Regions from separate parts of the Homo sapiens genome. Here region 2 is linked to region 1. The links come from fine-mapping of genetic effects on gene expression. Tissue or cell type: whole blood. Region 1 holds a variant in brackets; the other region holds the start of a gene. All regions are shown on one strand. Distances are between the middles of the regions. Region 1 overlaps GTF2E2 (general transcription factor IIE subunit 2). Region 2 holds the start of GTF2E2 (general transcription factor IIE subunit 2).

What was found.
Region 2: it holds the start of GTF2E2, and the variant in region 1 is fine-mapped to the expression of GTF2E2 in whole blood (INTERVAL, PIP above 0.99).

What each region holds. Positions count from the first base shown.
Region 1 is chr8:30,580,193-30,592,730 of GRCh38, forward strand. It overlaps GTF2E2 (general transcription factor IIE subunit 2), which reads right to left. Exons shown (of 8, transcript NM_002095.6): 7 at 89-204. Among named protein-coding and RNA genes, the nearest start is that of SMIM18, 52 kb to the right of the region's middle. The variant G/A (reference allele first, on the strand shown) is at 6,526.
Region 2 is chr8:30,652,419-30,664,956 of GRCh38, forward strand. It overlaps GTF2E2 (general transcription factor IIE subunit 2), which reads right to left and starts at 5,818. Exons shown (of 8, transcript NM_002095.6): 1 at 5,555-5,818; 2 at 1,015-1,184. The coding sequence starts at 1,180. RefSeq lists enhancers at 4,347-5,018, 5,690-6,361 and silencers at 5,403-5,492, 5,503-5,912.

The DNA of each region.
Region 1 (12,538 bases):
AACTCCCAGCTCTTCAGAGGGCAGAAAGCGGAGCAGGCTAACAGTTCCCAGGGCAGGGGATTAAGCTGCTTTGCTAGAGATTACGCACCACTTTCTTTGGTCCAGATTCCTGCATGGAAGAAATACCCTGTCGCTTCAGATATTCTTCAATTTTCTCCTCGTCCATGGAATCTACAGTGACACTCCTCCACAGTTTCTGAAATTCTGTATCAAACAGACACTAGTTATTTTACAATCCATTTTTACAAACTATAGCATCTTGATCAAAATCCAGGTTTCAGTGTTATCTCCTCTGGATCCAAATGAGCACATCTGATATGTCATCATGAAACAAGTCAGGGCAGAACATCCACATGTGGGACACGGTGCAGGGAAAGGCCTGGAGACAGAACTGCACCCACACAGCCCCGACAGTGGGGCTGTTTCTTGAGGCCAGCAAATGAGGGCTGCCACAATGAAGCCGCCCTGCTTTCCTGGGCCGTCAACACCCTCCTTTAATTCCTCTATTTAGGGCTAACAGCTTATTTCCTGCTCAGCTCCCCTAAGCATGATATACTCATTCCTCTCTCATTGATAATAGAAAATAAGAAACGTGTAGGGAGACGGGAACCGAAGTTTCACATGGAAATGAGGTTATTCAACAATTTATCTGCAAAAAAGACTTTTGAAATCAAATAACCTGGTAACTGGTGACTAAGGAGGCATGAAAGGGAAAGGGGGGATGGCTGAAATAGAAACACTGTCTCACCTCCTCTCTGTAATACAAGGAGAAAGGCGACAGTCCTGCCTGCAGCTTGTCTTCAGAAACCTGTAGTCCCTCTGCCACATCACTATTTTTGCAACCAAGAGAGACCACAATTGGGAAGCATTCCAAATGAACATTATTTACATCTTACATTCTGCTCCTGAAGACAGGTTCTGATCACTGGTTTCACTTAATTATCAGAAGCTACTTTCAGACACAAAATCCTAAGACTTACACGCTCAGGAACGAAAAAAGGAAAAGCTCTCTGAGCCCCGAGGCTTCACAGAGCCTCACACTCACAACTGCCCCACGCACTGAGGGGATGCACCTTCCCTTCCTTTCTTCCCACCCCAGACCCTCACCCAGCGCCGCCCTCCTTTTCTTCCAGAGCCAAGAACTTCCCACGGTCCGTTTACAAATGATAAATGAAGTAGGCATCTGATACTGTGCTAGGCCAGATTTCTTTCCTTTTCCCCTTTTCCTTCCTTCCCCCTTTCTCTCTCATTTCAGTACACGCTGCATAAAGCAAATGATGCCCACATAGGCAGGACTCTGGTGATACCATGGAAATCGGTTTACTGCCACCTACCCTGAAGCTTTTCATTGCAGGTGACCAATGGCAAAAGTGGCAAAATCTACTACAAAGAATTCAACCTGAGCATAAAGTTATTTAAATCCAAAATGTCTCTAAATAAGATTTTTTAATTTCCATAGATACATTAGGGGTTCTTTCTACTACACACCCACTGAACGTTCATCTGCACACATTATGGACATGACCTAACTGATAACAACTGTGTGCATGATTGTCTCGGCCTCTCTAAGCTCCTTGAGAGCAGGGAGCTCTATTTCCATCTTGTTTCCATGATAGTCGGCGTATTTCCATCTCGTTTCCATGACAGTCGGCACTGTACCTAGCACATGACAGGTCCTCAGTGATTTGACTACTGAATGTATGAAACACCATCACTGTCTACTACAGCCTAGACAAGACTTCAACGATTTGACTACCGAATGTATGAAATACCATCATTGTCTACTACACCCTAGACAAGACAGACTGTTTTCTTTTTTTAAAATTTATTTATTTTTGAGACAGGGTCTAGTTCTGTTGCCCAAACTGGAAAGCAGTGGCGCAATCTCAGCTCACTGTAACCTCCACCTCCTGGGCTTAAGCAATCCTCCCACCTCAGCCTCCTGAGGAGCTGGGACCAAGGTACACACCACCATGCCCAGCTAAGTTGTTTCTGGGGGGGTGGGGGGTTGTGTAGAGATGAGGTTTTACCATGTTGCCTAGGCTGGGCTCAAACTCCTGAGCTCAGGCAATCCATCTGCCTTGGCCTCCCGAAGTGCTGGGATTACAGGTGTCGAGCCACCATGTCTGGCCTATATTTTTCTTTTTACATTTTTTAGACTTTTAAAAAATAATTTTACACTAACAAAAGGGTTACAAAATGAGTACACAGAGTTCCTATATGCCCTTTATCCAGCTTCCCCTAATGTTAACACCTTACATAACTGTATAATTATTGAAACTAACATGGACATATTACTATTAATTCATCAACAGGCCTTACTGAAACTTCACAAGTTTGAAGTGAAACTTCAACTTCACCGATGCTCTTTTCTTGGCCCAGGATCCTGCCTGTCACATCTCTTTGGTCTCCTCCATTCTCTAAGTGTGGCCAGTCTTTGTTTCCCCACTGGTCAGTTGTTTTACAGAAACTTCCATTTGGGTTTGTCTAGTATTTCCTCATTACTAGATTGAGGTTATGCAATTCTGGCAAGAACAACACAGTAACGAGCTTGTGCCCTTCTTGGGGCACAGTAGCAAGCTACATAGTGTCAACATGGACCCGGTAAACGCTGACCATCAGGCAAGGTGTTATCTCTCAGGTTTCTCTGTCATGAAGCTATCAGTTTTTCCTTTGTAGTTAATAATTAATGGAGAGATATTTTCAGACTATATAAATACCGTTTCTCATATTATCACTAATTTTATAATAGCATCCATTGGTAGTGCTTACCTACAAAAATGACTACTTGTAAGTAACTACTGACAAATTATTTCCATCATTCCTTCCATATGTACTAATTAGAATTCTACTATAATAGGCTGGGCACGGTGGCTCATGCCTGTAATCCCAGCACTTTGGGAGGCCGAGGAGGGTGGATCATTCAAGGTCAGGAGTTCAAGACCAGCCTGGCCAACATGGTGAAACTGTGTCTCTACTAAAAATACAAAAATTAGCTGGGCATGGCAGTGGGTACCTGTAATCCCAGCTACTCAGAAGGCTGAGGCAGGAAAATCACTTGAACCTGGGAGGCGGAGGGTGCAGTGAGCTGAGACTGTGCCACTGTACTCCAGCCTGGGTAACACAGCGAGACTCCATCTCAAAAAACAAAACATAACAAAAAACACAAAGAGCTGCTCTTCCTTCAGTTCACTGTTTGTTTGTTGAGACAGGGTCTCACTTTGTCACCTAGGCTGGAGTGCAGTGGCACAATCTTGGCTCACTGAAGCCTCAACTTCCTGGGCTCAATCAATCTTCCTCCCTCAGCCTCCCAAGTGGCTGGGACTACAGGCACATACCACCACACCAGGCTAACTTTTGTATTTTTAGTAGAGACAGGGTTTCATCATGTTGCCAAGGCTGGTCTCGAACGTCTAGACTCAAGCGATCCACCTGCCTTGGCCTCCCAAAGTACTGGGATTACCAGCCTGAGCCACTGTGCCCAACCTCCAACTTGTTTTTCAATTATTTAATTTAGCAGACTCATGGATATTACTGTACAGATTTATATCTACATATTTATTACACAGATAATCCATGACGATCAGTATTTATTTATTTATTTATTTTATTTATTTATTTTATTTATTTTGAGATGGAGTCTCGCACTGTCACCCAGGCTGGAGTGCAGTGGTGCGATCTCGGCTCACTGCAAGCTCCACCTCCCGGGTTCACGCCATTCTCCTGTCTCAGCCTCCCGAGTAGCTGGGACTACAGGCGCCAGCCACCACGCCCAGTTAACTTTTTGTATTTTTTAGTAGAGACAGGGTTTCACCGTGTTATCCAGGATGGTCTCGATCTCCTGATCTTGTGATCTGCCCGCCTCAGCCTCCCAAAGTGCTGGGATTACAGGCGTGAGCCACCGTGCCCAGCCGACGATCAGTATTTATTTTGTGGTTCAAACATCCCAGCTCTAATCACTAAGATTTCCTTCATGTTGGTTCCTATGTCCCTGACTTGCTTCCCTTTTTTTTTTTTTCCTCCAGTTTTTCTTCTTTCTCTCACTTTCTGGCGGTACTAAAAGATGTTCCAGGCTCATCTTGTATTTCCCCTCATTTGGAATCAATGATTTCTTCAAGGATTCCTGACTTGTTTTATTATAGAATGGTATTTAAAAACCAAGATCTACATATTTTGGGTTTTTAAAAATAGCAATCTCTTTTTTGAAAACAAAATGATCAAGGGACATCAAATTTAAAGGCAGACACTTTATTATGGCAGAAGACAGCCAAGTATCATGAAAGTCAGGCACACTCTAAACCGTAAGGGTAAATAAAATCAGAACTGATTTAGAAATCTACTCTCTTAGCAGAAAAGAGGAGAAAACAGACTAGAATTTAAAAGCTCAGATTTGATCCTTTCATTTCAAAAGACCCTTCCTTGTCCCACATGAGTTAAGAATAAAAAACTGTGTAACTGCCATAGAAGGGAAGAAAATGAGCCAACTTACCAATGAGGCTTTGCTTAAAATTCCCAAATAACGCACTCACATTTTGTCTGTGCTTAGCCCTTTCCCGTAAATGCAAAAGTAGCACAACAGTGTGGTGCAGGCCTCAGAGCCAGATGGCCTGGCTGTGACCTCAGTTACCACATTTCCTGCACAAAGTGGTGCAAACATCTTAATTTTTCTGCCTCCATTTCTTCATCTGTAAAGTGAGGATAATAATAATACCTGCCTCGCCGAGCGTGGTGGCTCTGTAATCCAAGCACTTTAGGAGGCCAAGGCAGGCGGATCACCTGAGGTCGGGAGTTCGAGACCAGCCTGACCAACATGGAGAAACCCCATCTCTATTAAAAATACAAAATTAGCCAGGCGTGGTGGCACATGCCTGTAGTCCCAGCTACTTGGGAGGCTGAGGAAGGAGAATCGCTTGAGTCCGGAAGGCAGAGGTTGCGGTGAGCCGAGATCACGCCATTGCACTCCAGCCTGGGCAACAAGAGCGAAACTCCGTCTCAATAATAATAATAACGATAATAGTAATAATAATACCTGCCTCATAGAATAGTGAGGATTAGAGGAGTTAATAAAGCACCGAAAATAATGCCTGCAAATGAAACAGCATTATCTACACCTATTACTGTTATCATCACCATCTAACACCCATCATAATTTTCTGTGTGCTGGTGTCTTTAATAAAGGCAATATAAAACATTTAAGAAGAGGATCAGCTACTAGACACAAAGTGATCTCATTTATGTAAAGCAGAAGAAACAAAACTTCTAAAAATTTCTTAAAAAGCAAAAACACATACATATTAAATACATCGTAAAGATGTGGAAAATACACACCAATAGGTATCCCCAGAGAAAAGAATACAGTTTGCTTAGAGAATTTTCATTTTTTTGTTCTGCAGACTTGACAAAGGTTTTATTAATAATATGCAGAAATATTTGTGTATTGCTAGTGTAAAATTTTAAAGAAATAACCTAAAAATAAGGAGGATCATACTTACTAATAATTCACGCACTTGCCACTTTTTCTCAGCCCCACATTAGGCTATGGTGTTCTAGTGTTAGCATTAAGGTACATCTTTGCCCTTTAAAAAAAAAAAAAAAAAAAAAAAAAAAAAAGGCCAGGCCCAGTGGCTCATGCCTGTAATTCCAGAGCTTAGGGAGATGGAGGTGGGAGGACTGCTTGAACCCAGGAGCTCAAGGCCAGCCTGGGCAATATATAGAGACACCATCTCAAAAATTTAAAAAACAAGCCGGGCATGGTGGTGTTCACTTGTAGTCCCAGCTACTCAGGAGACTGAGGTGGGAAGAGAGCTTGAACCCAGTTTGACGTTGTGAGCTACAATTGTGCCACTGCACTCCAGCCTGGGAGACAAAGAGAGACCCTGTCTCTAAAACAACAACAACAACAAAACCAAATGCAGAATCTCAACGAGCAACACGCCATGCCTTCCTCCCTTTTCCTTTAACAACACGTGTTATTAACGTGACTTTTTATCCTCAAAAGTGTCATTATATCCACTTTGCAGTTCCAGAAAATAGGACATTTCTCAATTTACCTCATCTTCTAGTGATCTTACATTTGAGACCTATCAAAATAATTTCTTGTGTGCTACACAGAAAAATGCACCCCCACCCAAGATGTCCACAACGTAATCCCCAGAACCTGTGAATACGTTACCATAAAAGAGACTTTGGTGACTAAGAATCTTGAGATGAGGAGATCTCAAGATTTGGATTCTGAATTGGAAGAATTAATACTGTTAAAATGTCCATACTATCCAAAGTGATCCACAGATTCAATGCAATCCCTATAAAAATTCCAATGTCATTTTTCACATAAATAGAAAAAATAATTCTAAAAGTCTAATGGAAACACACAAAAAAACTGAATAGCCAAGGCAATCTTGAGCGAAACAAACAAAACTAGAGGTACCACACTACTTCAAACTATATTACAATGCTACGGTAATCAAAACAGCATGGGACTGGCATAAACAAAAGCCCAGTAATGAACCCATGCATTTACAATCC[G/A]CTGATCTTTGACAAAGGTGCCAAGAACACACAATGGGAAAAGGACAGTCTCTTCAATAAAGGGTGTCGGGAAAACTGAATATCCACATGCAGGAGAATGAAATGAGGCCACTGTCTCACACCATATAGAAAAATCAACTCAAAATGGATTGAAGACTTAAACATAAGACCTGAACCTGTGAAAATACTACAAGAAAACACAGGGAAAACAACACAACACTGGTCAGGGCAATCATTTTTTGGATTTGACCCCAAAAGTTCAGGCAACAAAAGCAAACATAGACAACTGGGATTACAACAAACCAAAAAGCTGCAGCATGGCAAAGTAAACAGACTGAAGAGACAACCTACAAACTGGGAGAATATATTTGCAAGCAATACATCTAATATGGGTTTAATATACAAAATATAGGGCAGGTGCCACAACTCATGCCTATAATCCCAGCACTTTGGGAGGGCGAGGCAGGAAGATTGCTTGAGCCTAGGAGTTTGAGACCAGCCTGGGCAATATAGTGAGACCTCGTCTCTACAAAAAATGTTTTAAGATTAGCCAAGTTTGGCAGTACATATCTGCAGTCCCAGCTACTTAGGAGGCTAAGATGACAGGATCACTTCAGCCTGGGAGGTGGAGGCTGCAGTTAGCTGAGATCATGCCGCTGCATTACAATCTGGGCAACAAAATGAGACGCTGCCTCTAAAAAAGAAAAAAAAATTATATATATTTTCCATATATATGGAACTCAAAATAATAGCAAAAAAAAAAAAATAACCTGATTTAAAAATTGGCAAAAGATCTGAATATTGTCTGAAAATTCAGAAATCCTGAAATGTCAGAAATATTCAGACATTTCTCAAAAGAAGATATACAAATGAGGCCAGGCACAGTGGCTCATGCCTATAATCCCAGCACTTTGGGAGGCCAAGGCATGTGGATCACCTAAGGTCAGGAGTTCGAGACCAGCCTGGCCACCATGGCAAAACCCCATCTCTACTAAAAATACAAACTCAGCTGGGCATGGTGGCGGGCACCTGTAATTCCAGCTACTTGGGAGGCTGAGGCAGGAGAATTGCTTGAACCCAAGATACGGAGGTTGCAATGAGCCAAGACCGCACCACTGCACTCCAGCCTGGGCAACAGAGCAAGACTCCGTCTTAAAAAAAAAAAAAAAAAAAAAACCACACAAATGACCAACAGATATATTGCTCATCATTGCTAATCATTAGGGAAATACAAATCAAAACCACAATGATTTCCAACTGGGGCAGAGACTTAAAGGAAAAAGGAGAAAGAGAAGTACAATGAGCCATCACTTCACACCTGTGAGAATGGTTATCCTCAAAAAGAGGAAAGATAACATGCACTGATGAGGATGTAGCAGAGGGAACACCTGTACACTGTTGGTGGAAATGTAAATTGGTGTAGCCATTATGGAAAACTGTATGGAGTCCCCCCAGAAAACTAATAACTAGATTATCATTTGATCCAGCAATCCCACTTCTGGATATTTATTCTAAGGACTTGAACTTAGTATGTTGAGGAGATGCTTGCACTCCCATGTTCACTGCAGCATTACTTACAACAGTCGAGATAAAGACTCAGTCTAAGTGTCTATCAACAGATGAACGGATAACAAAAATATAATATATATACACACAATGGAATTCTATTAGCCTTAAAAAAGAAAGGAATTCTGTCATTTGCAACATGAATAAACCTGGAGGACATTGTTAAATGAAATAAGCCAGGCACCGAATGACAAAAACCGCATGTTTTCACCTCTACGTGGAATCTAAAACAATCAGAACTCAACAGAAGCAGAGAGTAGAATGATGGCTACTAGAGGCTAGGAGAAGGGGAATGAGGAGGTGTTGGTCCAAAGAAAAAGGAATCTTGAAAGGCAGGTTATCCTGGATTATTTGAGCAGACCTAATGTAATCACAAGGGTCCTTATAAAGGAAAGAGGCAGGCAAGAGAGCCTGAGTCAAGGTGGAAGCAGAGGTCAGAGTGATGCTGGGACACAAGCCAAGAAATTCGGGTAGCCTCTGGAAGCTGAAAAGGCAAGAAAACGAATTCTTCCCATGAGTATCCAGAAGTGCAGCCCTTTTTACCCATTTAAGACTTCTGACCTCCAGAACAGTAAGATAATACGTTTGTGTTGTTTTAAGCCATGAAGTTTGTAGTAACATCTTACAGCAGCAACAGGAAACTAATACACACTGCTTGAAAATTTTCTTTTTAAAAAAGTACTGGCCTGGCCGGGCACAGTGGCTCACGCCTGTAATCCCAGCACTTTTGGAGGCTGAGGGAGGCGGATCACGAGGTCAGGAGTTTGAGACCAGCCTGACCAACATGGTGAAACCCCATCTCTACTAAAAATGCAAAAAAAAAATTATCCGGGCGTGGTGGCACACGCCTGTAATCACAGCTACTCAGGAGGCTGAGGCAGGAGAATCACTTGAATCCAGGAAGCAGAGGTTGCAGTAACCAAGATCGCACTACTGCACTCAAGCCTGCTGACAAAGCGAGACTCCACCTCAAAAAAAAGAAAAAAGTATTGGCATGGTGCAATGACTCACACCTGTAATCCCAGTACTTTGGGAGGCCAAGGTGGGAGGATCACTTGAAGCCAGAAGTTCAAGACCAGTCTGGGCAAAAGCGAGACCTCCATCTCTACCAAAATTTTTAAAATAATAAATTGGCCAGACATGGAGGCATATGCCTGTAGTCCCAGCTAAGAGACTGAGGTGGGAGGATGGCTTGAGTCCAGGGGAGTTCAAGGCTGCAGTGACCTATGACTGTGCCATTACATTCCAGCCTGAGCAACAGAGCAAGACGCTGTCTTAAAAATAAAAAATAAATTTTAAGTATAACTTAAGCAGGCAGGATTATAAAGACAAGTGCCACTTCATCCTCAACATTTCAACAAGTATTTCTTGAGAATTCTGTCACTACCACAGTATGACCTGCTATCTGGACATCTGTAAAGAACAGGCATCGTCTGCCCAAATCTGTGCAGCAGAGGCTGGACAGAATGAGAAGAACTTGGCAGCACTTGCTGTTCTTGGTGATCCTGCTGAAATCTACACTGAGCAATTGCACTTTTTACTCGGGATAAACACCAGACACCAAAACAAGAAGGGGAGAAGCCGTGGGGTAACTCTTTACCTTGAAAACTGCTTTACAATGGGAGAAACACCATATTCTTTTGAACAACTACTTTAAATTGTCCTTTTATTTTACTAAGGTATAATTTATGAAAATTAAAATCCTGCACATTTTACTGTACAATTCCTGAAGTTTTGACAAGCATATGGTCATGCTAACACCACCATGATAATGATATAGACAGTTCCACAACCGCAAATCACCCTATGCTCCTCTGCAGTCACTCTCTCCACGGGCAGCCCCTGATCTGTTTCTATGGTTCTGTTTCCCAGGAATATCATAAACATATAAATAAAATCACACAGCATGTCCCTTTCGAATCTGGCTTCCCTCATGAGGCACGATGCCTCTGAGATTCATCCATGTTGTTGGAATGTCAGTCCTTTGTTCCTTTTCATTGCTGAGTTGTATTCCACTCTAAGTATGTGCCACAGTTAAGGGGAAGTTAAGGGACAGTTAAAGGATGTGAGTTGTTTCCAATTGTTGGTGGTTATGAAGAAAGCCAGTATAAATACCCATTAATTTAATGTGAATTTGGGTTAACACCCAAGAGTGGGATGGCTGGGTTATACAGTAGTATATATTACAATGTAGAGATCTATACCTACTATTTAGCTTTCTAAAGGACACTGGACCCACGTCTCACACCATAAACAAAAACTCTAACTCCTAGAGGAAAAACCCCTAACTCCTAGAGGAAAAAACAGAGGTAAATCTTCATGACCTTGGATTAGGCAATGGTTTAGACATGACACCAAAAGCACAAGCAGCAAAAGAAATAAAGATAAAGGACTTGATTGAAATCAAAAACTTTTTTTTTTTTTTGAGACAGAGTTGCACTCTGTCACCCAGGCTGGAGTGCAGTGGCGCAATCTCAGCTCACTACAACCTCACCCTCCCAGGTTCAAGTGATCCTCCTGCCTCAGCCTCCCGAGTAGCTGGGATTACAGATGGGGACCACCATGCCCAGCTGATTTTTGTATTTTTAGTAGAGACAGGGTTTTGCCATGTTGGCCAAGCTGGTCTCGAACTCCTAACCTCGGATGATCCACCTGCCTCGGCCTCTCAAAGTGCTGGGATTACAGGTGTGAGCCACTGCGCCTGGCCCAAAATTAAAAACTTTTATACCTCATAAGACACCATCAAGAAAGTGAAAAGACAACCCACAGAATGGAAAAAAATATCTGTAAAGCATGTATCTCACAATGGCCTTGTATCCAGAATAAAGAATTCTTACAGCTCTGTAATAAAAGCACAAAACAATTTTTTAAATGGACAAAGGATTTCAATACACATTTTGCCAAATGAAATATACAGATGGACCGGATGTGGTGGTTCACACCTATAATTCCAGCACTTTGAAAGGCCACGGCAGGAGGATTACTTGAGGCCAGGAGTTCAAGGTCAGCCTGGGCAACAGAGTAAGACCCTGCCTCTATAAAAAATTAAAATATTACCCAGGTACCGTGGCACACCTGTTGCCCTAGCTACTCAGGAGGCTGAGAAGGGAGGATTGCATGACCCTAAGAGCTTGAGGCTGCAATGAGTTATGATAGCATCACTGCACTCAAGCCCAGGAAACAGAGTGAGACCCTGTTTCTACAGTAAAAAAATAAAATAAAAATAAAATAAAATATAAAATGGCCAATCAGCACATAAAAAGATGTTCAACATCATTAGTCATTAGGGAAATGCAAATCAAAATCACAGTAACACTTCACATCCACCAGAATGGCTAAAATCAGTGTTGGCAAGGGTGTGGGGAAAGCAGAACCTTCCTAAGTTGCTGGTGAGAATGTAAATTAATGTAGCTGCTTTGCAAAATAGTATGACAATTCCTCAAAAAGTTAACCACAGAACTACCATATGATGTAGCAATTCTACTCCTAGGTATATACCTAAGAGAAATGAAAACACATGTCCACACAAAAACTTGTATAGGTATGTTAATAGCAGTATTATTCACAACAGCCAAAAAGTGGAAAAACCCAAATATCCATCAACTGATACATGAAAAGTGTATGGCCATACAATAGAATTTTTTTTTTTACTATAAGCACTTAATGCTCTTTATTTCCCTATAAGCACTGCTATAGCTGCATCCCATGAATTTTGATACACTGTGCTTTCACTTTCATTTAATGCAACAATGTTTTTACCTCCCTGTGATTTCCTCCTTGAACCATAGGTTACTTAAAGGTATTTAATTTCAGGCTGGGTGTGGTGGCTCACATCTGTAATCCTAGCACTCTGGGAAGCTGAGGTAGGCAGATCACTTGAGCCTAGGGGTTCAAGACCAGACTGGGCAACACTGCAAAATCCCATCTCTACAAAAAAATACAAACATTAGCCAGGCATGGTGACACACACCTGTAGTCCTAGCTACTGGGGAGGCTGAGATAGGAGGATCGCCTGTGCCCAGGGAGGTCAAGGCTGCAGTGAGCTGTGATCATGCCACTGCACTCCAGCCTATACAGTGAGACTCTGTCTCAAAAAATACATAAATAAAATAATTTCCAAATGGACAGTCTCCAAATATAGCTACTAGCTCTGTTATTGATTTCTAGCCTAATTCCATTACGGCTCACACACATCGTTCACGTATAGTCAGCCTTTGGTATCCATGGGGGATTGGTTCCAGGACTCATACAGATACCAAAATCTACAGATGCTCAAGTCTCTGATATCAAATGGTATAGTATCTACATATAACCTATGCCTATCCTCCCATGCACTTTAAATAATCTCTGGATTACTTACAATGCCTGGTACAATTTAAACACCATGTAAATAGTTATACTGTATTGTTTAGGGAATAATGACAAGGAAAACGTCTGTATGTGTTTA
Region 2 (12,538 bases), 72 kb after region 1:
TAGACATTTCACCAAGGAATACACATGGTCAATAAGCACATGAAACAATGTTCAACATCATTACTCATTAAGGAAATGCGTATTAAAGCCACAATGATAGAACTTCACAACTATAGAAATAGCTATGATTAAAAAAAAAAAAACAGAATTTCAAGCGTTAGCAAGGATGAGAAAAAACTAGAACCCTGATACATTGCTGGAGGAAATATAAAATGGTACAGCTATTTTAGCAGTTTCTTAACAAGTTAAATATAAATTTGACATATGACCCAGAAATCTACTTCTAGGTCTCTATCCAAAAGAGATAAAAAGATATGTCTACACAAAGACTTGTACATGAATATTCATACCAACACTATTCAAAACAGCCAAAAAGTGAAAATAATCCAAATAACCGTTTATTGGTGAATGGATAAACAAACTGTGGTACATATATCCATACTATGGAATACGCTTTACCAATAAAAATGGAATGAAGTACTGATGCATACTACATGGATGGAACTCAAAAATATGCCAAGTGAAAAAAACAACACACAAAAGACCACTTACTGTACAATTTCATTTATAGGAAATATCCAGAAAAGGCAAATATACAGAGCCAGAAAGCAGATTATTGGTTTTCCGGGGCAGGGATGGGAAAAGTCACTGCAAATGGGCACATCAGATCTGCTGGGGGTGATGGAAATGTTCTAAAATTGGACTGTAATAACAGCTGCAAAATTCTGTAAATTTACCAAACATCTTTGAACTGTAAACTTAAAATGAATGAACTGTATGGTATGTAAATTAAACCTAAATAAAGTTTTTTTAAAGAGGTAATAACCTAAATTTTAACTACAGCACAAGACTATTAACATCCTAAGAGCTTAAATTCTCTTGTCCCATCCTTTATATTCAACAAAGTGCCTATCAACATGAGTGCTGAACTGAAAAATGAACTAGCCATAACTAAACGGTTTCCTCCTGAATAATCTGAATAAAAACCAAACAGTCCTAAACAATTTTACTAACCAGAATTTTGTTTAGAGCCTGACGATCCTCCATGTTCTACCTTTGTTTTCTTCTTCTTTGACGATGATGATGATGACTCAGAAGATGCTGAACGTTTTTCTACTACAGGAGTAGAAAGAGCTCGTTTTTTGAACAGCTCCCTTTCTCTCAACAGGCTTGGATCCATAATGCTACAAAGAAAAAATAAGTGTCTTTAATACAAATTCAAGTCACTCAAACCTGCACTCCAAATCCACAGATCTCAACAAGTTACTTCCCAAACAAAATTACCTTTTATTATTAGTTCTCTAGCACTTGCATTTATTCACTTATTCAAGTACTCAAGAAATATTTCATTAGCGCTTATTACACGCCAAGCACTGTACTAGCCATTATAGGAAAAAAAGAGGCCAGGCATAGTGGCTGAAGCACTTTGGGAAGCCGAGGTGGGCAGACTGCCTGAGCCCAGGAGTTGGAGACCAGCCTGGACAACATGGTAATACCTCCTGTCTACAAAAATACAAAAAATCAGGCAGGCATGGTGATGTGTGCTTACAGTCCCAGCTACTCGGGAGGCGGAAGTGGGAGGATCACTTCAGCCTGGAAGGTCAAGGCTGCAGTGAGCTGTGATAATGCCACTGCACTCTAGCCTGGGTGACAGACCAAGACCCTTGTTCAAAAAAAAAAAAAAAAAAGAAAGAAAGAAAAGAAACAGAATTATTCCCTAAAGTTCCAGAACTGTGCTGTCCAATATATTAGCCACTAGCCACATGTGCCTATTAAACATGTGAAATGTGGCTAGTTAAAATTGAGATGGACTTTCAAGTGTAAAAACCCACAAGATTTCAAAGATTTAGTATAAAGAAAAAAACTATTTAATTACTAACGAGATATTTTACATTAATTACATGTTGAAGTGATACTATTTTGAATATACTGGGTTAAATAAAATGTTAAAATTAATTTCACCAATTTTTCTTTTAAAATATGGCTATTAAAAAAAAATTAAGAGACAGTGTCTCACTGTGTTGCCCAGGCTGGAGTACAGTGGTGTGATCATAGCTCAATGTAGCCTTGAACTCCTGGGCTCAAGCAATCCTCCCACCTCAGCCTCCTGACTAGCTAGTACTACAGGTACACGCCACCACACACAGTTAATTTTTTTAAAAACTTTTTAGAGACAAGGTCTTGCTATGTTGCCCAGGCTGGTCTTGAACTCCTGGCCTCAAGCAATCCTCCTACCTCAGTCTCCCAAAGCACTAGGATTACAAACATGAGCCACTGCACCCAGCCTAGAATATTTTTAATTACACGTGTGGCTCACACTTCCCACTCCCATTATATTTCTATTGGACAACACTGCTGTAGAAACATGAGGACTACAGGGCAGAAATTAGAAGAAGGTGGATTTAGGCTCACTGCAAAAAAAGAGAACCATCAGAACTGCTTATACATAAAATGGCATATTTTTACAACTGGTGAACTCTCAATTATTAAGTGATGAAGAGGCTGAATTATTATACTATTTGTTAGAAATGTCTACAGAGAGCCGGGCACAGTGGCTCATGTCTGTAATCCCAGCACTTTGGGAGGCTGAGAGACCAGCCTGGGCAACATAGTGAAACCCTATCTCTACGAAATTAGCCAGTCATAGTGACACATACGTGTAGTCCGGGCTACTCAGAACGCTGAGACACGAGAACTGTTTGAGTCCAGCAGAGGTTGCAGTAAGCTGAGATCCCGCCACTGCCCTCCAGCCTGGGGGATACAGCAAAACTCTGTCTCAAAAAAAAAAAAAAAGTCTACAGAAAATTTCCAATTTGGAGGGAGGTGGTTTGAGGCAACTTCTATGTTGTGGTTGTTGTTTGTCTAGTTCTAAAATTACAACTCAAAGCAATTTCACTACAACCAGGGAAGCTACAGGTCAACCAACAAGAATTCTAAACACACCTCTCTTCTGAACTCTGCTAGAACCCTACAGAGGGTCTATGAAGACCTCAAGCTGACTATATAAATGAATTTGACACTGTTAAGACTAGTGTCAGCTGGGAGGAAAAAGACTCATACTTTGAAAGCTTTTAAGCACAGATAGCTCAATAAATATTTGTTAAATGAACAACACATGGAACATCATCTTTAAATTGCTCTGGTCCCATTATTACTGGTTTCACAAGCCTTTATTAAATATCTTGTTTGTGAGGCACTGTGCTCTAAGCTTTGAAAGGTTACGGAAGATAAATCCTTGTCTACATGCTGCTTAGATTTGAGAAAATGGAAGCATTGAGCTAAAAATTTTAAATATAAGCATTGATAAGAAATAATCAGACTGAATTTCAATTAAGGCGTGAACAATCACTGGACGGTGAATCAAAAACCTGCCTTCTCTCAGTTTCAATTTTTTTTTCTTTTTTTTTGAGACAGAGTCTCGCTCTGCCGCCCAGGCTGGCAGAGTGCAGTGGTGCAATCTCGGCTCAATGCAACCTCCGCCTCCTGGGCTCAAGCGATTCTCCTGGCTCAGCCTCCCGAGTAGCTGGGACTACAGGCGCGCAGCACCACGCCCCGCCAATGTCTGTATTTTTAGTAGAGACGGGGTTCATTCACCATGTTGGCCAAGCTGATCTTGAACTCCTGACCTCAAGTGATCCGCCCACCTCAGCCTCCCAAAGTGCTTAGATTACAGGCGTGAGTCACCGCACCCGGCCTCAGTTTCAATTCCTAAAGCCACCTGGCTAGGCAACCCACAAGGCCTCTACATTCAATTTCATAAGTGAAATGAGGACGCTATGAAAGCTGTCCACATCCAGCCCAATTGTAAGAATGAGAAAATGTGTATGTTATTTTTTAAACAGTAAAGTCATAAAAACGTGTTATTTCAGTATTACTATTTTGAGTTGGATCTGAAAGAAGGGAATGATTTACCGGGCTGAGGAAAGTAGGAGACAGCCTTGGGAGGAGGGAAAGCGTGGGGCCAAGAAGAAGAAAGGAGAATTGTCAAGTGAGAAGGTGGGAGCAAAAAGTAAATTTCTAGAACAGGAAACATTTGTGTCTTATTTCACGTTGCAAAGGCAGGACCTCAATCTGGACTTTAAAAAAATTACTCTAAAAGATTTAAATAGGCCGGGCGCAGCGGCTCACGCCTGTAATCCCAGCACTTTGGGAGGCCGAGGAGGGCGGATCACGAGGTCAGGAGTTCTAGACGAGTCTGGCCAACATGGTGAAACTCCGTCTCCATTAAAAATTTAAAAAATGTGCAGGGTGTCGTTGCGGGTGCCTGTAATCCCAACTACTTGGGAGGCTGAGGCAGGAGAATCGCTTGAACCAGGGACGTGGAGCTTGCAGTAAGCCAAGATCGCGCCACTGCACTCCAGCCCGGGCGACAGTGCGAGACTCCGTCTCAGAAAAAAAAAAAAAAAAAAGTAAATAAAGCCGTACAGTTTACAACAAACTAAATGCTTACAGTATTTGACCCTCGCAACTCTAGGAGCAAACAGGTATTAGTGTTATTCCTATTTTAATACGTGAAATCTGAAGTGAAGCTGTCTGGTTAAGGTCGCACAGATGGAAGAGCCAGGGCCAGGAACCAAACCTCCTGACTCCTAACTCAAGTGCTCCTTACACCAGACCTGGAACGCTGGTAAAGGCCTTTAAAACAAAGGCCACCTGTGAGGTTCGGGAACGTTCAAAGGCATCTAGAGCAGAAAGCTTCGCAATGTCTGTCTTTCACCATCACGTGCTCCGCCTAACTTTTCCTCCTTTTTCAAAGACTACCCAATATGTGTACTAAGTTTTAGATCTCTGGACCCCCCTATGGAGTAAACAGGCTACATCACCATGTCCATTTTACAATTAAACAAAACCACAACTCAAGGAGTTGGCTGGTTCCTCCGTGGGCAGACACGGAAAACCCAAAAATTAAACTGAAATCTGCCTCCAAGCCCACGATTCTTGCCACCATTCGACCTCTTTCAACCTTACTACTTCCCCTCTCTTTCACTTTTACCCAGCCTCGTTAGTGTCCCTGGCACCTCAGGACCCGGCTATGAAAAGCAGGCTGCTTCGCCCTTAAATGACGGAAGTGGGGAGGTGGGCGAAAAGGGGGCCGCAGCGTTGTTTAGACTGCAGAAATCAACTACTATCGTTAAAGTTTAGGGATCATCACAAACCAAATCTCCAAAAGGTAGCCTAGAAAGCAGTCCGCGTATGAGCATCATTTTAAATCACAGTCTTGAGCTGGCTGGACCCCGCGGCTGCTCAAACTCCACACACGGTTCGCTTGGCTACCGCGCCCGTGAACTTGGAGGCTTGGAAGAGGCACAGTCAGGCGGCAGACCGCGAATTTTCCCTCTTTCCAACCCAAAAGTTTGCTCAATGAACCTCTGGCCTAAAGACAATGCTCCGGGGAACGGTTCGCGTGCTGGGTGTTTCGCTTCGAGAACGGCGGTCCCAGCTTCCCGTGAGGTGGAGGTCACGCTCAGCCTCCCGGGAGGCGGCGGCGCGCCTGCGTCCCAGGGAACAGCAAGCCGGGGCTCTGCGCCCCACACCCGGCGGCCGCAGCCCCTACCTGAGTGAGAAGGGCAGCCTCGCACGACTCGCCGCCCCCTTCCTGCGCCTCCGCCTCGGCCGGCCGCCCACGCCGGCACTGCACCCTCTTCCTGCTTCTCGTCAGCGCCCCCGCCTGCCCGCACGCACGCCCAGCGCTGACCCGCCAGGTCGGGGTCTCACCACTGGCGGTGGCGGCGGCGGCGGCGGCAGCGGCGGTAGCTGAGGCGGCGACTGGACCCGGGACTCCGCCCGCCACTTCCCGATCGGGTGCTAGGAGCTCAGTCCCGGCAGCCACCGCGGCGCCAGGGCAGCCAAGCGAGCGCATGCGTCATTGCGTGCCCCGCCTCTGGTGCCGCGGGAGCGGAACTATCCCGCTCTGGCGTCCTGGGGCCTCCATGACAACGAGGGAAGGGCTGGGGTGGGGCCGAGAAGGGGACTGAAGTGGGAGGCGGCGCCACTGAAGATGGAAGGCAGCTTTCTTTATAGACACTTTATTAAAACTGCTACAGCCTGCTCCGGCGTGCGCTGGGATGTGGTGAACCCAGCCGACGACGCTATCTTTCAATGGTTACTTTGTGTTTTTTGTCTTTTTCTTATTAGAGACGTGATCTCACTCGGTCACCCAGGCTGGAGGGCAGTGGCGCGATCTCGGCTCACTGCAACCTCCGCTCCTGGGCTCAAGCCATTCTCCCACCTCAGCCTCCGGAGTAGCTGGGATCACAGGCGAGTGCCACCACGACGGACTATTTTTGGTTATTATTGTTGTTGTTGTTTGTATTAATAGGGTCTCACAATGTTGCCCAGGCTGGTCTCGAACTCCTGAATTCAAGCGATTTGCCCGCCTCGTCTTCCCAAAGTGCTGGGATTACAGGCGTGAGCCACCGCGCCCGGCCTCAACGGTTATTTTGTGAGTTTACCCCAGCGCCACACACCAGCACCTGCACACCGAGAACGCGGTTCCAGCTCTTTTACAAGCGAAGAACAGAGGGCCAGGAAGCTAATTAATAAATGACTTGCTCAAGACAACACAGCTAGCAAAGGCAGCCTGATGTGGAGCACAGCCCAGCCTCTTCCCTCCACCCCTGTGAACTGTCTTAGAAAAGGATTTTGGATTTAGAAGCCAGATAAATGGGTGGAAATAAAGCAGTGGAAAAAATAATTTCATTGCCCGAAACCTGCAGCGTGGCAGGCCTTCCCTCACTCTTATAACCTAAAGCGGCAGTACAGCCAGTGCTCAGCCATTCTGTGGCTGTCGTTGAATTACTGGTTACTCTTCAAGTTACTGAAACTGTGGCTCAGTTTTCTCATCGGGGAAATGGGGATAATCATTGTACTACTACAATGAGTTACTTGCATTGGACTGTGGTGAAAATTAAGTGAGAAAATACCTAAAATTTTATTCAAAACTTGGAAAAAAGTCAAAAGATAATATTTTGTGACTTTTATTAGTTTCATTCTAGAGAATTTTGTAATAAGCCTACTTGATCATCTGACACCCACAGGAAATGTAACTTTGTTTGAATAACAATTGATTAGGGCCCAGAAGATTTACAAAAGGATGAAATCAAACATCAATTGGTAGGAAACTGATGAGGTGTTAGGGGAAAAAGGGGCAGGGAATTCAGTGTGTATATAGATAGATAGATAGATAGATAGATAGATAGATAGATAGATAGATAGATAAAATTCCAAAGGTTAAGGTTGCATTTTTCTGAGAAAAATTAACCGGTTTTGTATCAACTGAGCAGTTTTATTTCAGCATTCCTTTCCCCAACGATTATATAAATATCATTTTTCAGAACTGGTAGAAATCCGTTTTATGATTCTGCTGGCTCCCTTATTAATGAGTGAGAGACTTATACATATGGACAATGGCTAAACCGCATATGATAATAACACTCTAACTCACATAAGCCAAACCATAACCTCTACAGCAATCAGCTCAAAATGGTCAGAATTTTCTCAAGAAGGCTGCCAACTTTTCTATTTTAACCTCTCTGTCCTCAGACACCAGTATCAGCCAGAGAAAGCCAAATATTCTTCCCAAACCAATCCTGTTAAGTTTCCTGCTTCAAGTTAGACAACTTCCAGCTTCCCCTGCCAACATCCCTAAATCAGAACACATCAGAAGCATCCCTTTTTTCCTCCACTGTAAAGTCTCCCCTCTTCCCGATTGCTTTTGAGTCTCTGCCAAACTCAAGTGTGGTCGCTGCCCCTATTGCTATAGCAAGCTCTGAATAGTCTCTGTTCTCACTTGGCAGGTCTACATTTCTTGCGTTAAATAAAACTTTGACACATATTCACTATCTCTTCCCTTGAGACTTAGAAATCTAACAATTAGAGAATCTTTACAGAATTAAATCTTTCACAAAGAAGGTGCTCAATAAACGCTTACAGTGAGTAATTTCATGTCAATATCTTGACTCATTTCAGCCAGTTGAAACAGCTAAGCTACTAATAATATCAGAATGTACTATCTATAATCCAGACTCTCAAATCTCAATTGTGTCCCCTTTACCCAGAAGTTAGCTCTTGTTATTAATATCATTGAAACCCTCTCATACAAACCCCAGGAAACCTTATTACATTACAAACTCCTGCTTATACTGCCTGTTGCATGTGTCTAGGTCTTAACACTGAAAGCAATGGCTTCATTCATTCTGAGGCAGGAGAATAGGGTCTGGAAGCAGAGAACCTAAGGCCAATTCACGCTGACTCCCTAGAAAGAGCTAAATCAAAAGGAAAACCCTAATTTTCCACACCCAAGTAACAAAAGGACCAGAGGCTGCTCCCTTTGCAACCCCTCACCCCCATTTTTCTGCCTGGCAGATGAAAAATTGAAAGTACCTCTGGCCGGCCGTGGTGGCTCATGCCTGTAATCCCAGCACTTTGGGAGGCCGAGGCAGGCGGATCACTTGAGGTCAGGAGTTCAAGACCAGGCTGGCCAACATGGTGAAACTCCGTCTCTACTAAAAAATACAAAAATTAGTGTGTGGTGGCGGGCACCTGTAATCCCAGCTACTCAGGAGGGTGAGGCAGGAGAATCACTTGAACCGGGGAGTCAGAGGTTGCAGTGAGCCGAGATCGTGCCCCTACACTCCAGCCTGGGTGACAGAGCAAGACTCCATCTCAAAAAAGAAAGCAAAAAACCTCTAACAGAGAGCCAAACCCCATCACTGCACACACACACACACACTCTCTCTCTCTCTCTCACACACACACACACACACACACACACATATGTAGACTTTCCCCAGGTAGTTATTGGCCAGGATGGAGTCACATACCTCATCTAAACCAATCAATCCCCATGAAAGGGAAAGAAACTACCGTGACAACCTGAAACAAATTTTGATTCACCTTTCTGGAGATGGGGAGGGAGTAGCCTACCTCGAACACATGAGTGAGCAAAGAGTGAACTCACATCTTTAAAAAGTTGGGACCAAACTAGCTTCTTACCTTGCAGAAACAAATAAGAAGTCGTTCCATAATTCAAACTTTCTTTCAAGTTTTCTCTTTGATAACCGTCATATCTTAGCATGCAATACTAGGTGTTTATGATCAACTTCCATAATAATTATCATAATAAAGAAAATAATTTCTCATAACATTTATGTATTTCATGATTTTTGCTACATCAGTGTATTAGAGTTTTCCAGAGAAATAGCAAATAGGATATGTGTGTGTGCGTGTGTGTAGACAGAAGGAGAGAGAGACCGAGAGAGGAAAAAAAAGAAATAGAGACAGAGTTAGAGAGGGATGTATTTATTTATCATTTAAGACACAGTCTCACTCTGTCACCCAGACTGGAGTGCAATAGCACGTTCTCAGCTCTCTGCAACCTCCACCTCACAGGTTCAAGCAATTCTCCTGTCTCAGCCTCCTGAGTAGCTGGAATTACAGGTGCGCACTACCACACCTGGCTAATTTTTGTATTTTTAGTAGAGACGGGGTTTCACCATGTTGGCCAGGCTGGTCTTGAACTCCTGACCTCAAGTGATCTGCCTGCCTTGGCCTCCCAAAGTGCTGCAATTACAGGCGTGAGCCACTGCGCCCAGCCAGAGAGGGATTTCTCATGTCATTATGGAGGCTGACAAGTCCCAAGATGTGCAGCCAACTTGGAGGCACAGATGACTGAAGATGTCCTTCCAGTTCAAAGCCATGCAGGCTCAAAACAGGAAGAGCCACTGTTTCAGTTCTAGTTCAAAGGCAGAAAATAAACTGCTATCCTAGCTCTAGACAGTCATGCAGGAGGAGCATTCCTCTTATTCACGGGAGGGTCGGCTTTTCTGTCCCATTCAGGCATTCAACTGATTGGATGGGGCCTTGCCACATTAGGGAGGGGAATCTGCTTGATACATCTGCCAGTTTAAATGTTCATTTTGGCCAGTTGCAGTAGCTCACACCTGTAATCTCAGCACTTTGGGAGGCTGAGGCGGGTGGATCACCTGAGGTCAGGAGTTTGAGATCAGCCTGGTCAACATGGTGAAACCCCATCTCTACTAATAATGCAAAAATTAGCTGGCTGTGGTGGCGGGTACCTATACTCCCAGCTGCTCGGGTGGCTGAGGCAGGAGAATCACTTGAACCCAGGAGGCAGAGGTTGCAGTGAGCCGAGATTGCACCACTGCACTCCAGCCTGGGTGACAGAGTGAAACTGAGTCTCAAAAAATAAATTAAATAAATAAATGTTCATTTCATCCAGAAACACCCGCACAGACACACCAAGAATACTGCTTGACCAACTGTCTGGGAACCCTGTGGCTCAGTCAAGTTGACAAGTAAACTTAACCATGGCAACTTGGCACCCAGACACATCTCCTTAAACCATACTTAATAACCAAATAAAGACAATAACACGGTCATAATTCCACCTACCATGATACCACTATCCTGCATACAAACAAAAACACACTAACCCCTTTCCCAGAAGAGAAGGTAAAGTCCTTGCGTCATGTTTTCTCTTTGATATGCCATAACTTTTTTTTACTTGTATAAATTTGAGGGGTACGGCCGGGCGCGGTGGCTCATGCCTGTAGTCCCAGCACTTTGGGGAGGCTGAGGTGGGCGGATGACAAGGTCAGGAGATCGAGACCATCCTGGCTAACACGGTGAAACCCCGTCTCTACTAAAAATACAAGAAATTAGCCAGGTGTGGTGGCGGGCACCTGTAGTCCCAGCTACTCAGGAGGCTAAGGCAGGAGAATGGCGTGAACCCCGGAGGCGGAGCTTGCAGTGAGCCGAGATCGCGCCACTGCACTCCATCCTGGGCGACAGAGCAAGACTCCGTCTCAAAAAAAAAAAGTAAGGGGTACAAATACAGTTTTGTCACATGGATATTTTGCATAGCGGGGAAGTCTGGGCTTTTGGGTAAGCATCACCCAAACAGTGTACATTGCACCTATTAGGCAATCTCTCATCCCTCATTGCCCTCCCACCCTCCCACCCATTCAAGTTTCAATGCCTGTTCTTTCACACTCTACACACTCCATGTCCATGTGGACACATTATTTAGATCCCATTTATAGATAAGAACACATGGCATTTGACTTTCTGGGTTGTTTCACTTAAGATAATAGCCTTCGGTTCCATCCATGTTGCTGCAAAAGACATGATTTCATTTTTTTTATGGCTGAATAGTATTCTAATACACACACACACATTTTCTTTCTTCTTCTTTTTTTTTTTTTTTTTTTTGAGACGGAGTCTTGCTCCATCACCAGGCTGCAGTGCAGTGGCGTGATCTCGGCTCGCTGCAATCTCCGCCTCTCAGGTTCAAGTGGTTCCTCTGCCTCAGCCTCCCCAATAGCCAGGACTACAAGTGTGCACCACCATGCCCGGCTAATTTTTTGTATTTTAGTAGAGATGGGGTTTCACCATGTTGGCCAGGATTGCCTCGATCTCCCGACCTTGTGATCTGTCCACCTCGGCCTCCCAAAGGGTTGGGATTACAGGCATGAGCCACCACTCGTAGCCTACCACATTTTCTTTATCCAGTCACCCACTGATGGATACTTAGGTTGATTCCATATCCTTGTTTTTGTGTATAGTGCGGTGATAAACATAATGAGTGTAAGTATCTTTTCGATGTAATGCTTTGTTTTTCTTTTGGGAAACCTCATAACTTTTTAAACAATTCTTAAATACTACAATATCAAGTCAATACATCTTAGGTTATATGATACAGGAAAAAGAGAGGGAAGAAAACAAAGATAATTTATACACACACACACACACAATCATGGCAATTACAGTCCTCATTTCTATAACTGGTCACATGGCTCTTTACCTAGGGGAATGACGTCCTTGATGGTGGCACTAATCTCTGCAGTCCCTCCAGGGATGTGGTATCGCTTTTCATTTTCTATTTTTCTAGGTAGAGGCAGTTCTTGTGGCTTCCACTTGGCCTTTGCCACCATAATAGCCCTCACTCCACAGGCCAGGGAAGCACTGGAGATTCTGCCAGCTGCTGAGCATGTCTATTCTGATTACGCATTCCTGAGCTGCAGAAATAACCACAGGATGGGTTCAGGGATCCACTGAGCCCACTATGAGATGGATCAATGCTAAAACTGCATGGATTGGCTGGGTGCGGTGGCTCACGCCTGTAATCCCAGCACTTTGGGAGGCCGAGGCAGATGGATCACCTGAGGTCGGGAGTTTGAGACCAGCCTGGCCAATATGGTGAAACCCTGTCTCCACTAAAAATACAAAAATTAGCTGGGTGTGGTGGCACGTACCACTTGGTCCCTGCCACCCTCAGATTCAACTACTGCCACTGCATTTAGGTTTTCCAATTCAGTGATAGCAGTTCCCTCTCTAATTTCTGACCTACTAAGAACGACAACCACTGAACACTTCAGGAATGCTGGGGCTCCCTTCACAAATTTATTTCTCACAGTCATGGTGAAGGGTATGTCCTCTGGGTACTCCTGGGGTGGGTGAGCAAATCTTACATGACAAATCCACTCTTTCAGTTAGAACAAATATATGGGATACATGT